Regions from separate parts of the Homo sapiens genome. Here region 1 is linked to region 2. The links come from fine-mapping of genetic effects on gene expression. A gene starts in region 2. The other region holds a variant in brackets. All regions are shown on one strand. Distances are between the middles of the regions. Region 1 overlaps SLC9A1 (solute carrier family 9 member A1). Region 2 holds the start of SLC9A1 (solute carrier family 9 member A1).

Region 1 (5,366 bases), 37 kb before region 2:
GCCTCTCTCAATATCAGGTATGGCCAGAGAACCCTGAGCTCCTGTGAGTGGTTTACTTGTTTGTTTTGTTTTGGGGTGGGAAAGTAGGTGGAAAAAAATCTGAGCATCTAGTTGTATGTTGGGTACTATGCTCCCAGGGTTGGCATAGCCAAGAGGGTTTGTCCCTTTGCTCAAGAGGAAAGCTCTCTCTGGCCTGGCATGGTGGCTCATGCCTGTATCCCAGCATTTTAGGAGGCTGAGGTGGGAGGAACACTTGAGGCCAATAATTTGACACCAGCTTGTACAACATAGGAGACCTCATCTCCACTTAAAAAAAATAGCTGGGCATGGTATGCACCTGTAGTCTCAGCTAGTTAGGAGGGCCGAGGCAGGAAGATCACTTGAGCCCAGCCTCAAAAAAAAAAAAGAAAGAAGAAAGCAAAGCTCTCTCTCCTCCCCTTCCCTATCTTGCAAGCTCTGTGCAGGCAGATCCCATAACTGCTTATCATTATACACCCAGGGCTAGGACACAAGAAGTGCTCAACAAATATCAGCTGACTTGAAAATACACAGGGCTGGGACATCACCCAAGATTTCCGATAACCTGCATGCCTGGCCAGGCCTCTGCTCTCATTACTTACTCTTGAGATCCTTGGGACAGAGGAGGAACTTCCCTCTCCATGCCCAAAGCCCTTCCTACTCTCAGGTAGGAATCTGGGCAGTGCTAGTACGGTGACAAGTCAAAGTTCACACTGCTGGCTGGGCACGGTAGCTCACGCCTGTAATCCCAGCACTTTGGGAGGCCGAGGTGGGTGGATCACCTGAGGTCAGGAATTCAAGACCAGCCTGACCAATATGGTGAAACCCTGTCTCTACTAAAAATATAAAAATTGGCCAGGCGTGGTGGTGGGTGCTTGTATTCCCAGCTACTTGGGAGGCTGAGACAGGAGAATTGCTTGAACACAGGAGGTAGAAGTTGCAGTGAGCCGAGATCACGCCACTGAGCTCCAGCCAAGATCACTCCACTGCACTCCAGCCTGGGCAACAGAGCAAGACTCCATCTTGAAAAAAAAAAGTTCACACACTGAACACTATCCAGGCCCAGAATCCTGGCACAGTGCCAAGCACCCTGAAGACACTCAAAACACATTGGGAAAAAAAGATGTCTCCATCCTAGGCCAAGAGGACCTCGAAGGCACCATGTGCATTCTCCTGATTTCAAAATAGACATGACCAAAAGTCACTTTTTGTTCATCTACTTCCCACATCAATAAAAGGGAAAATAATTCCAAAATCACCCCTTTTGCTGAAAAGTCCCCCAGTCTTTGTACTGTCCACCAGTCAACATCCAGTGTGTAGCTGGCTGGTCCACTGGGAAGGGCTAGTCATGTTGGACCCAAGTCTCTCTTGCTGTAGAGGATAAAGCCCACATTTTCAGCACTGCCTCTGTCATCTGCTCTTGCCTCATGTCCCATTCTCCCCACTGTCAACTCTTAGGTTTCAGCCTTGCCAAATTCCTTGCAATTGCCCCATATGAGCCACATCCTCTTTTGCCTGCCAATCTTCACCTAGTCTAGTTCCTCTCTCTAGAAATCATTCCTCTACCTCTACCCCCACCATATGTGGCTGACACCATATCCTCTGCCTGCCTCCTCCTTCAGGAAGCATTCCCTGACCACCACCTGTCTGCTCAGGTTAGGGCAGGAATCTTCTGGTGCTTCCCTCTCTCATAACCTTCAATCCACAGTCATCTCCCAGGTTCCTCTCTCTCTTCCTGGCACCCACCGAGATCAGTCAGACAACCCAGGCAGAAGCAGCTGAGACAAGACAATGGCATCAGACCCCAAAGACCTGCAGTGTGCTGGAGGGGAGACAGGCACAGCGCAGCGGAGATAAGCAGGATGAAGATTTAGGGGAGCAGAGCTCCTACAGGCAGGGGCCAGAAAGCACCTTCCCAAGGCCGGAAGTCCAGCTCCAGCCAGCTGCATGCTGACCCCCCTCCACAGCCTCCCTGCCCCTGTCCTGGCGTTAGCACCAAGAGCTGCCTTAAGAGAAGGCAGAGTCTAAAGAGATAGTCCAGGGTAGGCAGATGATGGCTTCCACCTCCACCTAAGGGGTCGGGCTCTAAAAATGCCTCCTACCCTCACTCTGTGCCATCAACCCAATCCACAGAGCTTTCCTGGCCCCATAAATCGCCAGACAGTGCCTGGGAGACCCAGAGAAGAGTTGGCCACAGCTCCTGCCTGGGGAGGGGGCAGGCATGTGAAACAAGCCAAGAACAGCAACATGAAGACGGCTCCTCAGGTCTGAGGGCGTCCCATGAGCCAGAACTGTGCTGGGAGCCTGGCACGCACCATCTCATTCAGTCCTCACCACAGCCCTTGGGATAGGTATTGCCTCCATTTTGCAGAAGACAAAGCTGAGGCTCAGCAAGGTTATGCCACTCCCCTAGTGTCTAAGGGAGGACCTCTATTCTAGCTTAGGTGTCTCAAACCGGTAGCAGAGAGCGCTAATTAATTCTTTAGTCAAAGCTCGGTATTTTCTCTGAGCCAGGCCATATGGGACACTGGGAACATTGAGGTGACTCAGACTCTGAACCTCCGTGAGCAGCTGATGGGGAGGGCCATGCTATTCCAGCCCTTGGAGCTTCTATGACCAGGTGAACAGAGAGCTGGCATTCCTATTGAACACAAGAAAAACGAGCTCTGAGAGGAGGCTGCATGCACTCAGCCAGGCCAACCAGGACTGGGTCCCGGGCCTCCTGACTACAGCACAGCGACCTCCTTCTCCTTCAGCCAGCTCCAGAGTACCTGGGGCTGGAGCCATGTTCCTGGAGCTGGTTTCCCTGGCTTTCCTGTTTTGTCTCTGGCGCTCAGTGAGCTGAAGGAGCTCTAGGCCCTGATGGGCTCTCTGGGCCTGAGGGGAGGGCCGGGCCGGGCCAGGCTGAGGAGAAAGGTCTGAGATCCACTTTTGGCTCCCTGCCTGTGGGTAGGTGGCACATTATTGGAAAGCACTTCTAGGGCTGGGGGAGGAAGGGATTCTGTCATCAAGAGGAGGCTCCTTCAGGAGCAACGGCTCAGGGAAGTGGGAAGCAGCCCCTGGACCTGCGCTGGCTTGTCCCTCTCCTAACGCCCTGACTCCACCAACTGCGCTCACTCTGCATCCCTGCAGAGTCCCCACAAAGAGCAGGATGCTTGCTGACACCC[G/C]GTGTGGTGAAAGGGGCACAGAAGGATGGCTGCGGCCCCTGGTACCCTGACAAAAGCCCTGCATGGAGGCAAGATCCCAGGATGCCAAGAGATGAGGCAAAACTTTCAGGGCCCAAACATGCAGCAGCAGTGATGTCACCAGGGTGAAATCAGGGATGGGAAGAGGCAGTTAGAGTAAGAACCAGAGTCGTAAGAGCTGGAATGGATCTTGGAGAGCATCTAAATTCTCCATTATATAGTCAGGGAAATGGAGACAGAGACAGCCAGTGACCTGTCAATGATCACATGTCCAGTTCTACCCCAGCAGTCTGTGACACTCCAAGCCACACAGCCTTCTTCGAGGACGTCCAGTCCTCCCAGAACAAGGAGGCACGAAAGTGTGGAATTCAACATCTCCAAGCACAGCCACAGGCCAAACCCTCTGACACAGTTCAGAGTTGGCGCTCCTTTTAGAAGAGGCTGGGGGATGGGAGAAGTGTTTTTCATTCTATCTAGTGTAGGTGGTAGCTGGAACGAACACACACACACACACACACACACACACACACACACACACACACTCTTGCTGAGCAGACACCTCACCAAACTTCCAATTGATGGAGGCTCCCAGCCCCCTGCGGCTGCTCTGCACCACAAGAATGTTTTATTTATATCTCCTCGGACGGTCCCCATCTGTTGAGACTGGCTCAGTGGAGCAGGCAAGGCTGTCCGACATCACCCTGGGTTGCCAGGGTGACCAGACATGCCTGATCCCCCTTCCCGCAACCCTCCTCTGGCCTGGGAAGTCAGAGGGGAGTGCTGGGAAGAGGGGTCTCTTTGGCCCATAGTGCCAGGTCACCAGGGACCCAGGGGCACACTGAGGGCTCTGTCGCCCTACTTCCAGGCCTGAGGACTGCTCTGGGGCTGCAACTCGGCCAGGTCCCAAGGGATTCCTAGTTGCACAATGATTCCATTTCTTTAACTCCCTCTTCAACTGCCCCAGCAACCAGTCTCAACTGCAGCAATGAAAGGTAATACTTCCCAATGAAAGCCCAGCACTCTACAGTTTACAGCGGCACACTCTTAACCCATTTGCTCTCCACCATAGTTCTGGGAAGTCACAATTACCATCCCCTTATTTTACAGATGAGGAAACTGAAGCACACAAAGGTTAAGCAACTTGATCAAAGTCACATGGCTGGTAACTGGGATTCAAACCCAGGTAGTCTGGCTCCAGAGTCTGTGTTCTTGGCCACTCACTGTATTATCCCTGGCTTTATTCTTACTTTGTTTCTAAGGGGCGTGTGAGCCTAGGACTAAAGAGGCCCAAAGCAGTTCCCAAAGGGCCAGCGGTAGGTTTTTCTTTCCATGAGCTCTTCTCCAGGAAGTCTCCCACTGCTTCTACTCTAGTGGCCTAGTAAAGACTTCATGAAATCCTTCCTATCTTCAAAGGCTGCCCTCTCCAGGAAGCTCTCCTAAGTTAACTCAGCCAGGAGGGGAAGGTTGCAGTGAGCCAAGATTGCACCACTGCACTCCAGCCTGGTGACAGAGCAAGACTCCACCTCAAAAAAAAAAAGTATTATTCATTGAGTTTCTGCTGTGGGGATGGGAGGTTTTTTTTGTTTTGTTTTGTTTTGTTTTGTTTTGGGGGGGCGGAGTCTCACTCTTGTTGTACAGTGGCGCGATTTCGGCTCACTACAGCGTCTGCCTCCCGGGTTCAAGTGATTCTCCTGCCTTAACCTCTCCAGGGGCTGGGATTACAGGCACCCACCATGGCGCCTGGCTAATTTTTGTATTTTTAATAGAGGAGGGGTTTCGCCATGTTGGCCAGGCTGGTCTCAAACTCCTGACCTCAGGTGATCCACCCACCTTAGCCTCCCAAAGTGCTGAGATTACAGGCGTGAGCCACCGCACCTGGCCAAATAATACTTTTTTTAAAATGTAGCAGCCAGCTGGGGGTGGCAGCTCACGTCTGTAATCCCATCACTTTGGGAGGCCGAGGCGGGTGGATCACCTGAGGTCAGGAGTTCTAGACCACAGTGACCAACATGGCGAAACCTCGTCTCTACGAAAAATACAAAAATTAGCCAGGTGTGGTGGCAGGCGCCTCTAATCACAGCTACTCAGGAGGCTGAGGCAGGAGAATCACTTGAACCTGTTAGGCAGAGGTTGCAGTGAGCCGAGATCACACCATGGCACTCC
Region 2 (5,366 bases):
GCCATCAAGGTATAGGTGCTGATGGCTTAGTTCCATGTAAGGCTCTGCTACTGTGACCAGCTTGGCACAAGAGCCCTGCACCAGGAACCCAGCTCCTGGATCTGTCAAATTAGAGGCACCACTTCCCTCCCGCTGCATGTCCCAGAGCCTGCCTCACACCAGCCCGGCAGCACCGCTCAGCTCCTGCATGTCCTTGGGAGAGCTGGAAGGTTTCCTGCCAAATTCCCAAACCCAAATCTCAGGCAGAGGGGACAGCAGAGTCCCAGGACCTCATGCCTTCCACAGCCAGCTGGGGGCAAGCTGAAAATGCAAAGGCAGTTGTCAAAGTCCCCCTGAACACCACTTTCAGGGACTTCTGGGCAATGTAGGCTCCAGTAAGCTCCCCCAATCACTCAGCAGAACAGAGTGCTCAGGCCTAGCAGGGAGACCAATACTCTGAGAGCAAATAAGTTGTCTGTTTCCTTCTCCCCAAAAGAAGGTTTCAAAGTCTCTTCAGGCCTGAACATCCCTAGGCTCCCCCATCTACCTCATCTACTTGATTGAGCAGCAGGCCAGACAGCACCCTGAGACACAGCCAGGCAGCGACCTGGGGGTGAGCTGGGGTCAGACCAAGCCTCAACCTCCTCTACTCTCCCTCCACTTCCAAAACAGACTTCAGAAATTTCCAGGGCCCCTTGTCCCACAGATTCTATAAAGTATGGCATTCCTGGGCCGGAAATTGACTCAGGGGCTCCTAACTAGCCTGGACAAGCAAAGCTGACAGATAACATTCTGGAGATGAAGGAAAGGTGGGAATATGGGGATCCCCTGTGTTCCACCACACTTGTAAGTTTCCTGTGCCCAGGTCTCCACTATGCTTAAACTCCTCAAGCAGGCCAAGTAGAAATATACTCCATCCTGGAACACGCTCCAGTGAAGCCTGTCATAAATTGCACTGGTTGCTGTTGACAGAGCAGAATGTGCCACTCGCCAGAAGACACTCCTTTCTGTCTCACACACAGCGGGGTGCCTGGCTCCCCTGGGGGTCTGGCCCAGCCAGAGGAGACTTGCCAGTCGTGGAAGCCTTACTGAAGGGACCTAGGATCAGAGGCATCCCATTCTCTAATCCTGCTCTCTTCTGTGCACAGTGCTGGCTCCAATCTTGGGAAGCCTCAGATCACAGATCAGAAGCCACAGAACTGGAGCCTGAGAAGGACCAAGGTGGCAGGATGGAGACTGCCTACTTTATGGGGGTAGTTCAGATCCTTACTCCTGGACAGCCTCAAATGGTGCGAGATGAGGCAAGAAGCTCACCAGTCTGGTGGCGGCCGCAGCATCGGAGCAAACGGGACTTACCTATCTTCATGAGGCAGGCCAGAAGGATCCAGAGGGAGATCTCGAAGGGGGTGCGCACGTGTGTGTAGTCGATGCCCAGGACTGGAAAGGCCTTGCGCGGCTTCATGCCATGATCAGTGACGGAATGATTAACAGGGCGGCTCTCTGGGGTGACCTCCGGTGGAGCGGTGGTGACATCCCCAATCGAGCGTTCTCGTGGTGGCTCTGAGCTTCGAATGGTGCTGGCAGTTGGGCTGAGCTGGAGGCCATGGCTCCTGAGAACAGGCAGCAGCCCCACCAAAGCAACCACCACGAGTAAGGAAGGGAAGATCCGATGTGGAGAGAGGCCACAGATGCCAGACCGCAGAACCATGGTGCTGCTTCCAGAGCCAGCCTCGACCTTACCCAAATGAGAGTAAAACCGGGCACATAGGTAGCAAAGGGTCAGCAAGTGGGAAGAGAGACTGGCGTAGTCTCTAGGAAAAGTTCATGTTTTAGAGAGGCATTTCCATGGAAGCAATTTTCTGGGGGTGGAGGGAGGCTGGGTTTGCAATCTGGAACTCCAAAGTGGGGAAAGGGGGCAAGGACCCAGGAACGACCACGAAAGGAGACCAAAAGGTCTGGAACTCCGGGCCTGGGAAGGGGGAGGACGGATGTGGGAAACTGAGCCCTAGGGATAGAGGAAGGGGCAGGATAGGGATAGTGCAAAGGAAAGGAAGAAGGAAGGCTGGGACCTTTGGCTGAGGAAAGTGACTGAGGAGCTGGGACTCTGGGCTGTGGGCTAAAGGAAGGGGTAGGGAGCCTGAGCTAAAGGAAGGGGACCGAAGGGGGTGAGAGCCAGTCCAGGAAAAGGAGAGAGGGGGCTGGGAGCCCAGGCTGAGAAGGAGTGAAACCGGGAAGCGGCCGGGAGCTTCTCCACCCAGAGAGGGGCAGGGGTCCAGGCGCGCCGGGCTGAGATTCCGGGGAAATGGAAAGAGGCGGAAGGCAGGCGGCCTGGCGGGAAGGCGCCTCGGCGCGGGCTGGGGGCGGCTCGCGGTGGGCCAGCAGCAACACGCCCCTCCTCGCGGCCCTGGCGCGACGCGGCGCTCCGCCCCGGCCCAGCTGCAGCTCCTCCTGGTCCAGCTCCAGAACTAACCCTAGCCCCGGCCCCGGCGGCAGCAGACTGAAGCCTAGCTGAGCCCGGCGCTGTCACTTATAGGCACCAGCGAGCAGCCGGTGCGGCGGGCTAGAGAGACCGTCGGCACCCGCCCAGCGCAGCGGCCCCTGTCGCCGAGGGAAAGAAGTATCGCGTAGGAAGAGGAAGGAGAGTCAGAGATGACAAAAAAAAAAAAAAAAAAAAGTCCTGAATATACAGAGAACCTCACTAACGCGAGTAAAATGCCGACTACTTACAAAACGATTTCACGTCCACATCTGCAGTCTCATAAGGGCTTTCGAATAATCCTGTGAAGAATGTATTATTAGTTTATGTATTTAGTTACCGTGTGACCTTGAGCAAGTTACTTAACCTGTTTCACAACTTTCTCATCTGTTAAGTAGAGACAGTAATAGTGACTATGTCAGAGGGATGATGTAATGACTGAGACAATCCGTGTAAACTATTTGGAATGCACCCTGGCACATTATTACAATTCCACTTTTACAGATGAGGAAACAGGTGAAGAGAGTCCCCTGGCTACTATGCAAGTAGTTGTATTGCTTACTAGGGCTGCCGTAACAAAGTATCACCCCAAACTGGGTGGCTGCAACAACAGAAATTGATTGTCTCACAGTTCTGGAGGCTGGAGGTCGGATCTAGGTGTTGGCAGGGTTGGTTTCAGCTGAGAGCTATGAGGGAGAATCTGTCCCATGCCTTTCTCCTACCTTCCAGTGGTTTGTTAGGACTATCTGGTATTCCATGGAGTTCTCCTGGTGTCTCTGTCTCTGCGTCCAGATTCCCCGCCCACACTTTATTTTTATTTTTATTTTTTTTGAGATAGAGTCTGGCTCTTGTTGCCCAGGCTGGAGTGCGGTGGCGCCATCTCAGCTCAATGCAACCTCTGCCTCCTGGATTCAAGCGATTCTCCTGCCTCAGCCTCCAGAGTAGCTGGGATTACTGGCACCCACCACCACGTCCAGCTAATTTTTGTATTTTTAGTAGAGATGGGGTTTCACCATGTTGGTCAGGCTGGTCTCGAACTCCTGACCTCAGGTGATCCACCCGCCTCGGCCTCCCAAAGTGCTGGGATTACAGGGGTAAGCCACAACCCCCAGCCAGATTTCCCCTTTTTATAAGGACACCAGTCATTGGATTAGAAATCCAACGTAATTACCTCATCTTAACCTGAACATCTTCAAAGACTGCATCCTAATTAGTCCATCTTCATAGGCACTGGGCATTAGGACTTCAACTTCTTTTGCCGGGACACAATTCAACCCACAACAGTGGCATGCTTTAAGTAGTGGAACTTAAATTTGAACCTATAGTTTGGTTGAAATTGGTGAGGTTCAAGGGATCATGGCTGTACAATGGAATCACTGGAAAGCTTTTTTAAAATACCATTGTCTAGGCCGGGCGTAGTGGCTGACGCCTGTAATCCCAGCACTTTGGGAGGCCGAGGCGGGCGGATCACGAGGTCAGGAGATCGAGACCACGGTGAAACCCGGTCTCTACTAAAAATACAAAAAATTAGCCGGGCGCAGTGGCGGGCGCCTGTAGTCCCAGCTACTCGGGAGGCTGAGGCAGGAGAATGGCGTGAACCCGGAAGGCGGAGCTTGCAGTGAGCGGAGATCGCGCCACAGCACTCCCGCCTGGGCGACAGAACGAGACTCCGTCTCAAAAAAAAAAAAAAAAAAAAAAAATTAGCCGGGCGTGGTGGCACATGCCTGTAATCCCAGCTAGTCAGGAGGCTGAGGCAAGAGAATCACTTGAACCCAGGAGGCGGAGGTTGCAGTAAGTCAAGATTGCACCACTGTACTCCAGCCTGGGCAACAGAGCGAGACTCTGTCTCAAAAAAAAATAAATAAATAAAAATAAATACCATTGTCTGATAAAATTAGCTGTGCTTGGTAGTCCTAGCTGCTTGGGAGGCTGAGGCAGGAGTATCATTTGAACCTAGGAGTTTGAGACTACAGTGAACTATGATCCACCACAGCACTCTAGCCTGGGCAACAAAGGGAGACCCTGTCAATCATAGTAATCATCATCATCATCATCTTTTGTAAAATATCATTTTCGGGGACCCACCGTCAGAGATTTAGATTCAATTACTTCAGGGTAGTGCCAAAGTATTTTTTTCAAAGGCTCTGATATACAACTAGGGTTGGGAGGTATAGAAATCACTGAAATGCTGTCCCTGTTTTGCAGAAGAGTACATTAAGGCCAAAACAGTCAAAGTGTCTAGCTCAAGGTCACATCACAAGTACTTGAGATTCAATTTAGTTTAACAAATGTTTACTGGGCCTCTTGACAGGGCTTTGTGCTGGGCTCTGGCAACACAGAGATAAGCCAGAGGGAGGAAGGAGGTGGTAGGAATTGGGAGGGGGCATAAAGTGGACATAATGAGGGCTTCTAGAATGCTGGTAATGTTCTATTTCTTTACTGGGTGATAGCTACAAAGGTTACAGCGACGTAGTTGTTTCGTGATAACTCACTGAAGACTCAAGATGTGTGCACCTTTTTCTAGGTATGCTATCCTTCCATGGAAAAATATATTAAAATAATAATAAGCTAGCAGCAGTGGCTCATGCCTGTAATCCCCGCAACTCAGGAGCCTGAGATGGGAGTATCAGTTGAGGCCAGGAGTTTAAGACCAACCTAGGCAACATAGGGAGACCCTGTCTTTAAAAAAAATAAGTAAAATAAAATAATAATATCCAGGTGCAGTGGCATGCACCTGTAGTCCCAGCTACTTGGGAGGCTGAGGCAGAAGAATCACTTGAACCCAGGAATTTGAGGCTGTAATGCACTATGATTGTGCTTGTGAAATAGCCACTGCACTCCAGCCTGGGAAACATAGTGAGACCCATCTCTAAAAATTAATTAGGCCAGGCACAGTGGTTCACGCCTGTAA

The links.
Region 1: its variant is fine-mapped to the expression of SLC9A1 in whole blood (INTERVAL, PIP 0.92).

The regions. Positions count from the first base shown.
Region 1 is chr1:27,115,342-27,120,707 of GRCh38, forward strand. The region is part of intron 1 of SLC9A1 (solute carrier family 9 member A1); the gene reads right to left. Among named protein-coding and RNA genes, the nearest start is that of SLC9A1, 37 kb to the right of the region's middle. RefSeq lists enhancers at 1,621-2,332, 3,043-3,753, 3,754-4,463. The variant G/C (reference allele first, on the strand shown) is at 3,186.
Region 2 is chr1:27,152,648-27,158,013 of GRCh38, forward strand. SLC9A1 (solute carrier family 9 member A1) reads right to left here and starts at 2,478. Exons shown (of 12, transcript NM_003047.5): 1 at 1,336-2,478. The coding sequence starts at 1,687. It overlaps LOC102723760 (a long non-coding RNA gene), which reads left to right and starts at 4,914. Exons shown (of 3, transcript XR_426674.4): 1 at 4,914-4,979. RefSeq lists a silencer at 2,198-2,427 and an enhancer at 3,373-3,872.